Linked DNA regions of Homo sapiens: region 1 is reported to be linked to region 2. Evidence: microRNA targets listed by miRTarBase, many of them from high-throughput screens and not tested one by one. Region 2 holds a microRNA gene; the other region holds the end of a gene's coding sequence.
The links. Region 2 holds the annotated microRNA hsa-miR-6856-5p (AAGAGAGGAGCAGUGGUGCUGUGG, at 4,297-4,320, opposite strand). A microRNA usually pairs through its seed, bases 2 to 8, with sites in the 3' UTR of a target mRNA and lowers its output. Matches are read on the target gene's strand: a 7mer-m8 pairs with bases 2 to 8, a 7mer-A1 pairs with bases 2 to 7 and ends in A, and an 8mer does both.

Region 1: miRTarBase lists PTGR2 as a target of hsa-miR-6856-5p. Seed matches in the 3' UTR shown: 7mer-A1 at 5,280-5,286.

What each region holds. Positions count from the first base shown.
Region 1 is chr14:73,883,289-73,890,406 of GRCh38, reverse strand. It overlaps PTGR2 (prostaglandin reductase 2), which reads right to left. Exons shown (of 10, transcript NM_001146154.2): 10 at 4,681-6,306. The coding sequence ends at 6,230. It overlaps ZNF410 (zinc finger protein 410), which reads right to left and starts at 3,548. Exons shown (of 12, transcript NM_021188.3): 1 at 3,492-3,548. RefSeq lists enhancers at 3,489-3,558, 5,190-5,299 and a silencer at 3,609-3,888.
Region 2 is chr9:130,623,622-130,630,621 of GRCh38, reverse strand. It overlaps MIR6856 (microRNA 6856), which reads right to left and starts at 4,325; the gene lies at 4,259-4,325. It overlaps FUBP3 (far upstream element binding protein 3), which reads right to left. Exons shown (of 19, transcript NM_003934.2): 11 at 6,911-7,000; 12 at 4,117-4,258. RefSeq lists a silencer at 566-860.

The DNA.
Region 1 (7,118 bases), not on the chromosome of region 2:
AGACCAGCCTGGCCAATATGGCGAAACCCCGTCTCTACTAAAAATACAAAAATTAGCCGGGCATGTGGCGGGTGCCTGTAATCCCAGCTACTCGGGAGGCTGTGGCAGGAGAATCGCTTGAACCCGAGAGATGGAGGTTGCAGTGAGCTGAGACTGCGTCACTGTACTCCAGCCTGGGCGACAGAGCAAGACTCCATCTCAAAAAAAAAAAAAAGTAACTGAATAAATGTTTTTTTGTCCTGTTGGTTTCTCCCTCTCTCTTTCTAAGCTACCTGAAATCCTCATTTTTCATTGTAAAAAAGTAACCATTTAGGCCGGGAGCAGTGGCTCACGCCTGTAATCCCAGCATTTTGGGAGGCCGAGGCAGGCGGAACACAAGGTCAGGAGATTGAGACCATCCTGGCCAACATGGTGCAACTCCGTCTCAACTAAAATACAAAAAATTAGCTAGGTGTGGTGGCATGTGCCTGCAGACCCAGCTACTCAGGAGGCTGAGGTAGGGGAATCGCTTGGACCTAGGAGATGGAGATTGCAGTGAGCCGAGATCGCTCCACTGTACTCCAGCCCGGGCGACAGAGCAAGACTCTGTGTCGAGAAAAAAAAAAAAAAAACTAACCATTTACAAGATATAAATGGAAATGCTCCTTCCAAGTTTCCCACATAAAGTATCATAAATCCCTGACTTTTCTTCCACACATATTTTTCTTATTCAAGCACTGCAACAGTTTCATATGGTTTATCCATCCCTCTATTTAGAGAGGAAGGAACCAAGGCTCAGTATATTACTTAATTACCAAGTTATTAAGTTGCAAAGCCAGGACTCCCACCCACACCAGAAGTATGCAGAAATCATTGGCGTGAATAGTGATTACATCTCTCTAGGTTTGACCCTGAATCTCCATGGCCTAAGAATTCCTTTTCTCAGCCTAGGCAACACAGTGAGACCCTATTTCTTTTTTTTTTTTTTTTTTTTTTGAGACTGAGTCTCGCTCTGTCACGCAGGCTGGAGTGCAGTGGCGCGATCTCAGCCAGTGAGACTCTATTTCTACAAAAAAAAATTTTTCAATTAGCATCACATGGTGGCACATGCCTGTGGTCCTAGCTACTAGGGAGGCTGAGTAGGAGGATTGCTTTAGCCCAGGAGATCGAGGCTGCACTGAACAGTGATCACGCCACTGCACTCCAGCCTGGGTAACAAATGGAGGCTGTCTCAAAAAAAACAAGAATTCCTCTTCCCCAATTCCAGCTTGTCTTAACAAGCCAAGAAATTATCAGATGTTTGTTGTTTAAGTCATCCTTAAGGTTCCTCCAACTTTGAGATTCCAGGATTGTAAAATCTCTGAGGAACCAGACAACTATTTACTGTCCTTTTTATGTTATCTATGACATCTTTTTATTTCAGTGTTTTCACTTCAATAATCTTTAAAAATTAACACGAGCATTTTCTCAAGCACTGGGTATTCATATTATAACTAAGTACTACCATACAATTTTTGTGTCCAAGTTTATGATTTGTATGTGTACGGTATGAATAAAATAAAAAATAGCAGGATGCATTAAGATATGCAACTGAACTCAAAAGAATTTGTACTAGAGCACTCAGTATCTTATCAAGTGTACTGTGGGGATCTCATCTTTAACAGAGCAACGTACTATGTACATTAGCTATAGGTGTAACGGCAAATACACAATTAAACATTCCTATTCCCAATTCCTTACTCAACAGATTTCCAAAACTGCAATGTAAATCTTTTTTAAAAATTAGTTTCACTAAGATATCGTTCACATACCATACTATTGACTCATTTAAAGAGTACAATTAAAATATCTTTAGTTCATTCAGAGTTGTACAAGCAGAACCACGATCAATTTTACAATATTTCATCACCTCACAAGGAAACCCTGTGCCCATTAACGGTCACTTCCCACTTCTAATGTGTTTACTATGAGCTTAAAGGGCTTCCATACAAGCTTCCCAGTAAGCAACTGGTAGGTACTAAATATTTGTATAATGAATGAATGACACTACAAATGATACCTACATTTTTCTCTAGTCATCTCTTCTGAACTCCAAACCTTCATTTCTAACTGCTTGCTAGGTATCTCCACATGTATATCCAACAGCATCTCAAACCTAACAATGTCCAAAATCCAGATTATTATCTTCCTTACCAAACCTGTTCTTCTTGTATTACCTATTTCAATGATCGCCCAATCTTCCTCCCACTCAGCTGCAAATTCTAGGTCTTTAAATCTCTCTCATTCTCCATTTTTAAATAATTCCCGTGATTCTCTGTTCCCAGAATGTTCTCTGTTCCCTACTGTAATGCCCTGTTTAGGTCTCTCAGTAACTTTCTACTATACTATTAAAACAGGCCTCTAACTGGTCACCCCGCGTTTAAAATTCCTCTTTCCAATACATCCTTTATGCAGCCATTCAAGTTATCTTTCCAAAACAAAGAAATGCTTATGTCACTTCTACTCAAAGTTCAGTGCCTCGGAAAAATTGTCATAGCCCTAAAGGTAAACCCCTTCGTTTACAGAAAAACTCCCCAGAGCTAGAGATTCAGCAACTTGCCAAAAATTAGACATCTACTTAGATGCAAAACGTAAAAAACTAGAACTTAAAACTTCTGACTGCTACTTTAGTTGTCTTTTACTCTGCACCACACTAAGAAAAAACCAAGTGCAATTTCTCACTCCCTAACAAAATGCCCGACTTTATTTCCAAATGTTTTTTATTTATTGCAAATATGCTGCGTTGACCTTCGTTCCAACCTAAGTACTAATTCTTAAGTCCCAAGTTAATAATATTTAACTTCCAAATGGTGCCTAAATGCATTTCTGAGCCTCATGATCAAGTGGGATAAACTTTAATAAATTGGATTATCTTGAGAAACTTCAGAAAATAAATTCGACACGAAATGTATGAAGGCCGTAAACAATCCACACACTCCTGCCCCCCGAACTGACAGGCAAAGGAGAAACGGGCGACCCAGCCCAGCCGAGTAGGCAGCTGTCCCTTTTCCAAACCCAGAAAGTAAGTGGTATGAAAGGAGAGGGTAGCTCTGGACTGAAACATTCAGGGCAAGGCCTCCTGGCATCCTCTACCCCACACCACAAAGGCCTCAGAAATAAGGCCCCAAGGTCCGTAGGCAGGCCCCGGCTGCGGGTGCAGTCCAAGAGCCCCCGCCCCGGGGACTCGCTGACTCTGGCTTTCTCAGGACAGTCTGTTCCTATATCCCTACCCCCAAAACCAAGCAAAGGAGCAAGAACATCGCCCCTAAAAACCCGCGAGGGGAAGGGCCAAAGCCGCAGGGCTTCAGACTGGCCGCTCCCGGGCCCGCCAGATCCAGGAGGGATGCCCAAGGAGGGCGGTTTCCTCTCTCGGGGCGAACTCGGCCCCAGGCCCCAAGTAGCCGGTACTGGCCCCCGCCCTCTCGGGTACTACCTAACCGAGGAGGGGTGGCCAGGCCCACCTCGGAGCTCACCTTCCAGTTCCGGGAAGCCGGCCGGCCGTCAGTCGGTCCCGAATTCCGTCCACACACAGCGTCTTCCGGCTCCCGCCGGAAGCAGCTCGAGCGCGGGACAGGAAGTTTGGCTGACCCCCCACGCACACACCCACTCGCTCGCCTCAGTGTCGTGTGGCTGCCGCACTGCTCGGGACCCAGACGTCAAGGGTGCTGGCGGGGCCTCCCCAGGCCCGCGACGCAGGGCTCCGCCCCGGACAGGAGGAGCCGCAGCCGCCCCGCTCCCACTCACTCACTCACTCTCGGCCTTCGGGACTCCTATGTCCGCGAAGCCCGAAAAAACAGGTCAGCTAATTCGTTGACGTCACTGCCACCCCGCAGTAGCGGAGGGAGTAGTTTTTCCCATCAGCGGAGGCGTTGCAATGGAGGCAAACGCGAAAGAAAAGATCACTGCTTAAACATTTATCAAAGGTCTCCATGGAGAGGACCTTCGAAGTTTCACCGCCCGAGAAAGGAACTTGCAGAATCAAGTTTTGCATTATATACGGGACGGGGTATGCAGTGAGTCTGGGTTCCGTGTTGTAATTAGGATGTAAAGAGCTCTTGGATGTCCCGACTGCGGGCTTGAACACTTGACTTCCAAGCTGGATGCCACCTTGTTAAAGCTTTGTGAGTTTGACTGACTTCTTGAAATTACTTATTTTAAAATATTTGCGTGCGGAAGAATGAGAGACTCAACCGTGGGAATTAAAGGAGTTCTCTTTAAAAAGGCATTTTCAAGGTTAAAGATAAGCCTTGATGACAGGTTTGGGTACACAAATTACTAATGGTGATTTAAAATAAAGGAGAAACATTTCAGAGGAAGATAATTCCACTTTAGAAAAGCAGAGTAGGCCGGACTCCGTGGCTCACGCCTTTAATCCCAGCACTTTGGGAGGCTAAGGTGGGCGGATCACGAGGTCAGGAGATCGAGACCATCCTGGGTAACGCCGTGAAAACCCGTCTCTACTAAAAACACAAAAATTAGCCGGGCGTGGTGGCACGCGCCTGTAATCCTAGCTACTCGGGAGGCTGAGGCAGGAGAATCGCTTGAACCCGGGAGGCGGAGGTTGCAGTGAGCCGAGATCGTGCCGCTGCACGCCGGGCGACTGAGCAAGACTCCATCTCAAAAAAGAAAAGAAAAGAAAAAAGCAGAGTATAAGATGCAATCCAGAGTTGAGGATATTTACTTGGAGGTAAAGGTCCAGTGCTCAAGAAAGAGGTCAGAAATACAGATGGAGATTTGGGAGTTAGCAACATACAGAGAAAAGTGAAACCCCCTCAGGCGATGAAATGGTCCAGGAAAAGTAACAAAAAAGGGCCACTCACGAAAACTGGGGAGGCTGATTACCAACACAGTTTGAATCTACTTATTACAAATGTTGCATACAAAAGTATATTGGCAGTGTGTAGACAATCATAAGCCAAAACATTCAGAAACAATAATCTTCAGTTTTACTGTTCTGCGAGGGTTGAGTACAATTAATAAAACAAACTTTTGAGGTACATCAGTAGTTCCTGAACATTCATGTTTACAAACATTTGTTAATTTGCCCAGTCCTGTCATTTTCTGAAACTGTCTTTGTTGTCAATCTGTTTTTGTTTTTTGAGATGGAATTTCACTCTTGTCGCCCAGGCTGGAGTGCAATGGTGCAAGCTCAGCTCACGGCAACCTCCCCCTCCCAGGTTCAAATGATTCTCCAGCCTCAGCCTCCTGAGTAGCTGGGATTACAGGCGTGTGCCACCACGCCCAGCTAATTTTTGTATTTTTAGAGAGATGGGGTTTCACCGTGTTGGCCAGGCTGGTCTTGAACTCCTGACCTCAAGTGATCTGCCCGCCTCTGCCTCCCAAAGTGCTAGGATTACAGGCTTGAGACATCAGGCCCGGCTGTCAATCTTTTTAATCACCTACAAGTGATGTTTACATCTGTTTGCCCTCTCAATCTTTACAACTTGACAGTATGTGCCTGCTAACCTAAAATAAACATATGCTTTTCTCAATATATATGGAGTTTTTAGGCTATACAGTAAATTATTTGGCAAATACAAAGAGATGATCCTCTGGAGTAAATCTTGTCAACTTAACCAACCTAAGTTATTTATCTTCCCATACTAATCCCAACCCAAAACCGCTGGTCTCCTATCCCAAAAACTGTTACACAAGCTCCGAAACCCCCAATCCTGCCCCCAGTCCCTATGTACACATCATACCATTAAGTCTCTTTTCAGTCTACAATGTGAAAAAAAGGCCATCTCAATTCTATTTTTACACCAAGTTTCAGTTTAAGAATCATGTAAAACATTTCCAGTTCAACAAATCTTTACTCAGTGCCTCTCAAGCATTCTATTTTATTTTAAGCATTCTATTTTAAATTAATAAAAGTTATTAATATTAATTTTAAAAAACCTATTGTGTATGATTCATTAATGGTTGTATCAGATCATGTAAAACGTTTCCAGTTTAACAAATCTTTACAAAGTGCCTCTCAAGCGTTCTATTTTAAATTAATAAAAGTAATTACTAAAAGTTATTAATTTTTAAAAACCTATTGTGTATGATCCATTAATGATTGTATCAAATACCCTATGCAACTAAAAATAACACCTATGATCACATTTAAATCAAGAGCTATGTATAGTCTAAGGATTTTTTAACATATCTTTGAAAATATGCAAAATGGAAAAGAAATCTATGATTGCCTTGATGACATTTACAGCAATTACAAAGAGATTTCTTCTGAAATGCAAACTATCTGCTTTCCAATGTTACCTCCTGTCATCATGGACTGGAATGCAGCTGGAAAAAGAGAAAGTAGGTTATCTGAAAAGATAAATGTCACTATCATACTTGTTTCCAAAAGGTACAACATATAAAATTATGTTAAATAACTTTTTCAATGATTTTGAATATTAAGCATAGAAGAAAATGGTCATGAAAAGAAATCTCAAGTAAAAAGTTACACACAAACTAACCCAATTAACATCTTAAAAAAATGTTTTGCCCATACTGGAAAGATTTAATTGGTATCTAACTGGTATGCACATCAATGTTCATTGTTTACAGTATCTGAAGACTAGAGGCAAAAAAAAATGGGAATAAAATGTGAGTGAAGGCCGGGCATGGGGCCTCACGACTGTAATCCCAGCACTTTGGGAGGCCAAGGTGGGTGGATCACTTGAAGTCAGGAGTTTAAGACCAGCCTGACCAACATGGTGAAACCCCATCTCTACTAAAAATACAAAAATCAGCTGGGAGTGGTGGTGTGTGCCTGTAGTCCCAGCTACTCGGGGGGCTAAGGTGGGAGCATCACCTGAACCTGGGAGGTAGAGGCTGCAGTGAGCCATGATCGCACCACTGCACTCCAGCCCGGGTGACAGAGCATGGCCCTGTCTCAAAAATTAAAAAAAGGGCTAGGCACTCACACCTGTAAATTCCAGCACTTTGGGAGGCTGAGGCAGAAGGATCATTTGAGGCCAGGAGTTGCCTGGACAATATAGTGAGACCCTGTTTCTATGGAAAATTAAAAAAAAAAAAAAGGTTGGGCATAGTGGCAGGTAATTGTAGTACCAGCTACTCTGGTGAGAGGATTGCTTGAGCCCATGGGTTCA
Region 2 (7,000 bases):
ACAGCACAACACAGGCAGAAGAGTAAGCAGAGACTGCGGCAACTCCTGAGGCTCTGGGGCACTTGGCTCCAGAAGACAACTCGGGGGGATTTTGTGCACGTCGGCACTTGCCCTGACAGTAGAGAAGTTGTCTCTATTTACTCCAAAGTGGTTCCAACTAAACCCAGGGCTCTCTCACTTGCAAAACTAGCTGTTTGGAGTGAAGCTGGACTTTCTCTCAAGGCCAAGCTGAGGCCACAGATGCCATGTGAAACCTCCATGTGAAGGTCGTGAGTGGCCCAGAGACCAGGTCTGGGCTGAGGCCTGTGGGTCTACACCATGGAGCTCACCCTTGGGGGCCAGCTGTGGGGCTCCCGCCCAGCCAGGGATGGCACTGCCCTTCTTAGCACAAGAATGGTGAGCCAAGGGCGCCTCCATGACAATGGGGCCTTCAGCCTGGCTGTGGGCAACTTTCTCCATAGGCCAAACAGATGACCACAGGCCCAACCATGCCTGGAGCCCACTCGGGCCTTCAGTATCCCACCCTGTCACTTCTCAAGTCCCTGCCTCCTCCATGGGGTGACGGTCTACACAGGCAGTGCAAGGATGGGGTGGAGGTCACAAAGACCTGGGTGGAGCCGGGCTAACAAAAATTCAGTTGGTCTCTTTCAAAAACCTGCGGAGAGTCTCAGTCTCTTAATGAAATTTGCGTAATAAAAGCTCCAGCAGCGTAACAATAGTTGGATTCTTCTTCTGAAATTCACAGAACTTGCGGATCTGCTCTGCTCAACTCTGTGGGGGATGGAGTGTTGCTAGGAGGAGCCAGAATACAAGGATAACTTGGAGCACAGTTTGGAAAAGTGGAGAAAAAGGTAATCTGCTCCAAAGCTGGTATAGGGCAGCAGCGAGCCTGGGTGATCAAAAGCAAAGACCGGGGCCAGTGTCGGCCCCTCCTCCATGCCCACAGTCAAAAAAACAGGCCCTAAATGCCATGTGGCACCTCACCAAGACACCGTCCACAATCCTCCAAACACTCCAAGCTTCTCTCTACCCACTGCCAGAAAAGCCCTGCCTCAACAGCCTATCGGGCCAGTAGGGAGGGGACGCTAAAGGCAGACACAAGGGCGTCTTGCAAGGACTCTACAGAGGTCCAGGAATGAAAAAGGCAGGTGGTCCTTCCTGAAGGCAGCAGGGGCTGCCCTTACGGGGGAGAAAAGACGCCGGGAGACATGGCATGCAGATAAGGTCGCATGCAGAAGACGTTGGTTAAGTTTAGGGTGGTTTTAAATTTAAAAAACAACTAACAAAACCAAATGTTGTGCTTGTGATTTCCTTAAGGTCCCGCTGGAGTTTCAGAGAAGCATCCCTGCATTTTCCACCCTGGCCAGACCCGCCTGTCTGGGGACACCGGGCCAGCACCCACAGCTCTGATTTCCTCTGGGCCGGTACAAGCCCCTCCTAGGGGACCTTTACCTCTGCCCTTTACTCGGAGGCCATGGATTTTATCTTCTCTGCACCATGAAAAGCAGGCTCCTAGGCAATGTTTTTTGGGGAGCAATAAAGAATAGAGACTTGGCCAGGCGCGGTGGCTCACGCCTGTAATCCCAGCACTTTGGGAGGCCAAGGCGAGTGGATCACCTGAGGTTGGGAGTTCGAGACCAGCCTGACCAACAGGGAGAAACCCCGTCTCTACTAAAAATACAAAATTAGCCAGGTGTGGTGGCGCATGCCTGTAATCCAAGCTACTCGGGAGGCTGAGGCAGGAGAATCGCTTGAACCCCAGAGGCGGAGGTTGCAGTGAGCCATGATCACGCCACTGCACTCCAGCCTGGGCAACAAAAGCGAAACTCCATCTCAAAAAAATAAAAAAAAATAAAAAAGAATAGAAACCAAAATGGAGACCATTTCCACAGGCACACGTAAGACTCGAGGGAACCCTACCAGCCTCCAACCAGATCCACTTGGTCTGGAGGCAAAAGCACAAGTACACGAGTGTCTGCGACTGAGAATCCTGCAGTCCCCAGACAGCCGAGGCCCCGGCCCTCCCCACTGGGCCCCTCATCCCCAGGCCTTGGGAACATGCTAATAAGGTGAGGAGGCGCCACAAAACCTCGTGGGGCCAGAAGGAGTTAATTTAAGTTCATCTTCCTTCAAAATGAGGTCACTAGCTTGGCACATGGTGGCTGTCTATAGACTCATTCAGCAGCCCGCTCCATTCTTCTACCTGATGGGGGGCAGAAGTGCCCCACCAGTGGCCCCCTGGCTGGACGTGAAATCGTAAAGCAATTAATCAAACCTGCTAAAAGGCCTGGCTGACAAGAGCAGGCTGGCTGAGCTATCTGTCAATGTTGCTGTGTTTATCATGGAAATCCAGCAGGGGCCAGGGAGGCTCTGTGTCTGTCCAGGCCAGAGGCCAAGGAAAGATGGGCCTGGCTGCGTGGGGCTCCTCTCTCCCTTGCCCAGGCGCCCATCTCAAGGAAAAGAGATGTCTCACATGGGCCCTGAGGGGTAGGGGGTGTGTGTGTGTGTGTGTGTGTGCGCGTGCGTGCGTGCGTGCGTGTGTTTAGTGCGGTGTGTGTGTGACATAGAAAGACCCTCCCATATCCGAGACACTAATTAGGCTTCTTTAGGCTGCTATTCAAGCATGGGACACAGACCAGTTACTGCTTCGTTCTCATCACTGTTTTCTAGGAATCACTCAGGATGACTTTGTGGAGGACCAACTACGAGGGGCTGCTCTGTGAGCACCAAGGGCTCACTATGAGAACCTGTCATGGTGAGGCAACAATGCTCAGTCAGGGTTTAGAGACACAAGCAAATGAAAACTTCGCCGACAAAATAGTTTGCAAAAGGCCAAGAAATCTAGATCTAGCTAATCGTCAACCTACAGGCATCAACTAGCTGCAGTCTCACAGCGGTCAGGCTGACGGCCTGGGTAGTGTGGGACTTCTGGCAGCATCTGGTGCAGCCTGCAATATCCCCAAACACTCACCAGCCCGCACACCTGCCGGCAAATGAACACGAACCCATACCAACTCTGAGTGGTTCAGTCTAAAAGACAACACGGTTTCTTGCATTTTGCAAGAGCATAAGCCCACAGTGTCTGTGAGCAGGGACGAGGGCAGCTCCTGGGAGGTGAGTGTCGGGGGGCTCCCACCTGCCCAGCTCTGGAGGTCTCTGCTGGTGAAGCATCCCCAAGTCCTGCCTATCCAATACGAGCGCCCCTCAAGCAGCTAAGGGGTATTTGGTGATCAAAGAAATTTGAGAAACTCTGGAGAGACGACTGTTTTCTCCACATGCTGTCAAATACCTAATGAAGGCAAATACGAAACCCAGTGACAACGGGAGTCCCCCGCTGGCAGCGAGGCCTGGCTCAGAGCCCCACGGAAGCCGAGCCCTGCTGCTACACTGGGAAGGCCCCACAGCCTCGGCCCTGGTCTCAGTAGCCTTTCTGGGTCCCAGGGCTAGCCAAGATGAACTGCTGCCAATGGCTGAGAAATGTGGCTGCTCTCTCCTGGTTCTCAGTGAAGGACAGGAAGGAGCTACAGTAGCCATGAATGAGGGTTTCTTCCTAATGTTCTCCAAAATGCCCAGAAAAAACTAACACATCAATGTTTATTTCCCTCCACAGAGAGTCCGTGACTCACGGTAAATATGCAGAAAGGATAAAAACCATTTTCACATGTTACGCGGATCAAGACCAAATACTCAAACCTGGTAAGGGAAACAAGTGACACACTGTCGAGAAGGAATTTTCACTGAGGATACTGTCTCAACCGTCCCTCTAAGTTCCTTGGAGGTGAGTTAATTACCAATCAGTCGATTGACAAATGCCCCCCATCTTGCGCAAGGTATCTTTTCACCAAGCTAAGCTGCCCTCAACAGGCAGGGAGTTTTACTGCTGTCTCTTCATACTCACCAGAAATAATACACTTTGCTCCTCACAACAGGCCCGTCAGCAGCCTCAGAGAACCATGCCAAGCAGGGTTTCGGCAGAAGGTGGCTACTGCCTCCAGACCGGGCAGCCCCAGCCTGCAGCAGCAAAGGGACCTCACCAAAGGTTCTGGAGGTCCCGTGACCTGCCTTCCCTCAAGCCAAACAGCTGAGGGGGGATGTGAAACCCCAGCTGCCTCTTACCTTTGCCTATGACGAGGCCACACTTATCGGCTGGCACCGTGTATGTTATCTCCTGGACGCCACCAGGGGCTCCCACGCTCCAGTCGCCACGGCCACGACCTCTTCCTCTGGCTGCTGCCAGGCCTCCAAAGCCGTCTCTTTCCTGGAAAGATCACAGGGCTGTAGCGACCTCTGCCACTGCCACAGCACCACTGCTCCTCTCTTTTCCAGGGAGGAGGTTAAGTGACAGGATGTAATCAATGCCACCCATCAGAACCTAGCACCTTTCCACACTTCCCATTCTGAAGGGCTCTTTCAAGCCAGAATTAACACCGATCACAGGTGTATCTGGGGAGGACCTGTGCAGACGAACACACGTGGTTACATAAACAGCTCAAATGTATCCAACAGAAATAGGCAGACACAAACTCCAAGGCTGAAGCCCAGCGGCCTTTCTCCCTGGAGCTTTCCTCACTGGGCCCCGATCTACAGGCATCAAGAACTGCTTTCTCCCTTGCAGCTGAGGCCCCTCTTTCCTGCGGCGGACACATACTGGGCCTATGGGAAGTCAGATATGCACAGCCTGCTGACCCTCCCCAACCAGGCACTGCTATGAGTCACAACACCTGGCACTCCAGTCAGCAAGAAGGATAAACGGATTTTACTCAGTTTTAGAAAACTTCTTGGCTGTTGTGCCCCCAAGCAGCAGCAGCAGTAACAGGTTCAAGAGTGACCATTCAGGGATACTTCAGAAGGGAGGAACAGAGGGAACCTGCCAAGGCCTCCTCCCCATGTGGGGCTGGAGAAGTCTCTGAGGCATTCTCCCACTGTTCACCCAGCAGAGAGAAAAACCTAAATCTAACAGCGGACAGAGGAAGAGCCCTTTCATTGAGACAGCAGCAAGTCTCATTCCAGCCGCTGTCCGCGGAGTCATTTTGGAGCTGCAGTATTTAAACTCTCTTAAATGTGGAGGGTGAACCTGGTCAAGCTAAGAGCTATTTCATGGAAGGGAGAAGCTGCACAGACTTTTCAACACATGAAGAAATGTTGGGCAAAACCTGCTCATGTTGATTAAGAGTAAAGTGAACGTTTACCCAGAATCTAAACCAGCAGAAAGCTGAGACAATTGGAGTGCTTTTCCCCCGCACTCTGCTCTTATGAGACAACTGCCAAGTAAACAAGGCAATTTTAGAATGGATGTTCACACACGCACAGGAGCGCACAGTCAACTTTCTGGGTATGCCACAGATCTCGAAGAAAAGGTTTTCTCCCAAACATCTCGCAGCCTCTGCAGTGCAAGGTTCATAAACTTTTTTTGAGACAGAGTTTTGCTCTTGTTGCCCAGGCGGGAATGCAATGGCAGGATCCTGGCTCACTGCAACCTCCGCTTCCTGGGTTTAAGCAATTCTCCTGCCTCAGCCTCCTGAGTAGCTGAAACTATAGGCATGCGCCACCACGCCCGGCTAATTTTGTATTTTTAGTAGGGACGGGTCTCACCATGTTGGTCTTGAACTCCTGACCTCAGGTGATCCACCTGCCTTGGCATCCCAAAGTGCTAGGATTACAGGCGTGAGCCACCACGTCCAGCTAATTTTGTATTTTCAGCAGAGACAGGGTTTCACCATGTTGGTCAGGCTGGTCTCGAACTCCTGACCTCAGGTGATCCGCTTGCCTCGGCCTCCCAAAATGCTGGGTACAAGAGTGAGCCACCGTGCCTGGCCAAGGTTCATAAACTCTTGCTACAAAAAAAGGATGTTAGAGATCATTTAGAGCAGGGGTGTTCAATCTTTTGGCTTCCCTGGGCCACACTGGAAGAACTGTCTTGGGCCACCCATAAAATACACTAACATTAATGATAGCTGATGAGCTTAAAAACACACACACACACACACACACACACACACACACACACACACAAAATCTTGTAACATTTTAAGAAAGTTTATGAATTTGTGTTGGGCTGCATTCAATGCTGTTCCTGGGCTGCGTGCAGCCCACAGGCTGAACGAGCTTGATTTAGTGGCCGTTTTATAAACTTGTCTAATCTTAAGAATTGCCTGGGTCTCTAGTGAAGACCCAAGACCCTCCCTTGGAAATGCTGATTCAGTAGATCTGGGGTGGGGGCCTACACATTTGTAATTTGAGTAAGAACCACCAGATGGCTCTTAGGGGATCACATAGAGAGCACTGCCTGGTGCAAAGCACCCTGAGTCTGCTGCTGGGAACACCAGACCCAGAGGTTCAAAGGCAGCTCCAAGGTCACATGACTGATGGCAGAGCTGGGACTATAATTTCCAATCTCTTGCTTTATTCTTCCGTTCTGGTCATTCTCAAATGTATCCTCAGTCCTACCATCAGTTATAGGGGTTCCTAGCACTGTCACACAGGCTGGCTCACAGTCCAAAGATGTGCATGAAATCAAGTGCATGAAGGCAGCTTTAGGACTTTGGAGGACCCTGAAGTGTCTTCTACCACTAAGACTGGATTTCACTAACACAGATTAACATTAAATACACTTGATTATTTGAAACTTGGCGACCAATCTCCATGGTATTTCCCCACATGGTTTAAATAGCCAGAAACTTACTGTGTAAAGGCAATCTAGATGGTGAGGTAAATAAAGGCAGAATAATTAATGAGCAGAAAAAAATACCAAGAAGGCAGGAAAGAGGCTGATGTAGAGAAACTGCTGGTTTCCCATAATGTGACTTGAGACGCCTCAGGGTGACAGCTCTATGGTGCTGCACCGAGAGCCCCGGGTAGCACTTTCCACTTCTGCAGCCCAAACACTCACACTCTGCAGAGCTGGACCCACCTGGGCTGTAAGAATCAGCTCGCTGATGATATGCGCTGCATGCTGACACCGATCCGGAGGGCCCATGACCTGGGCAGCTCTTTCTGGACT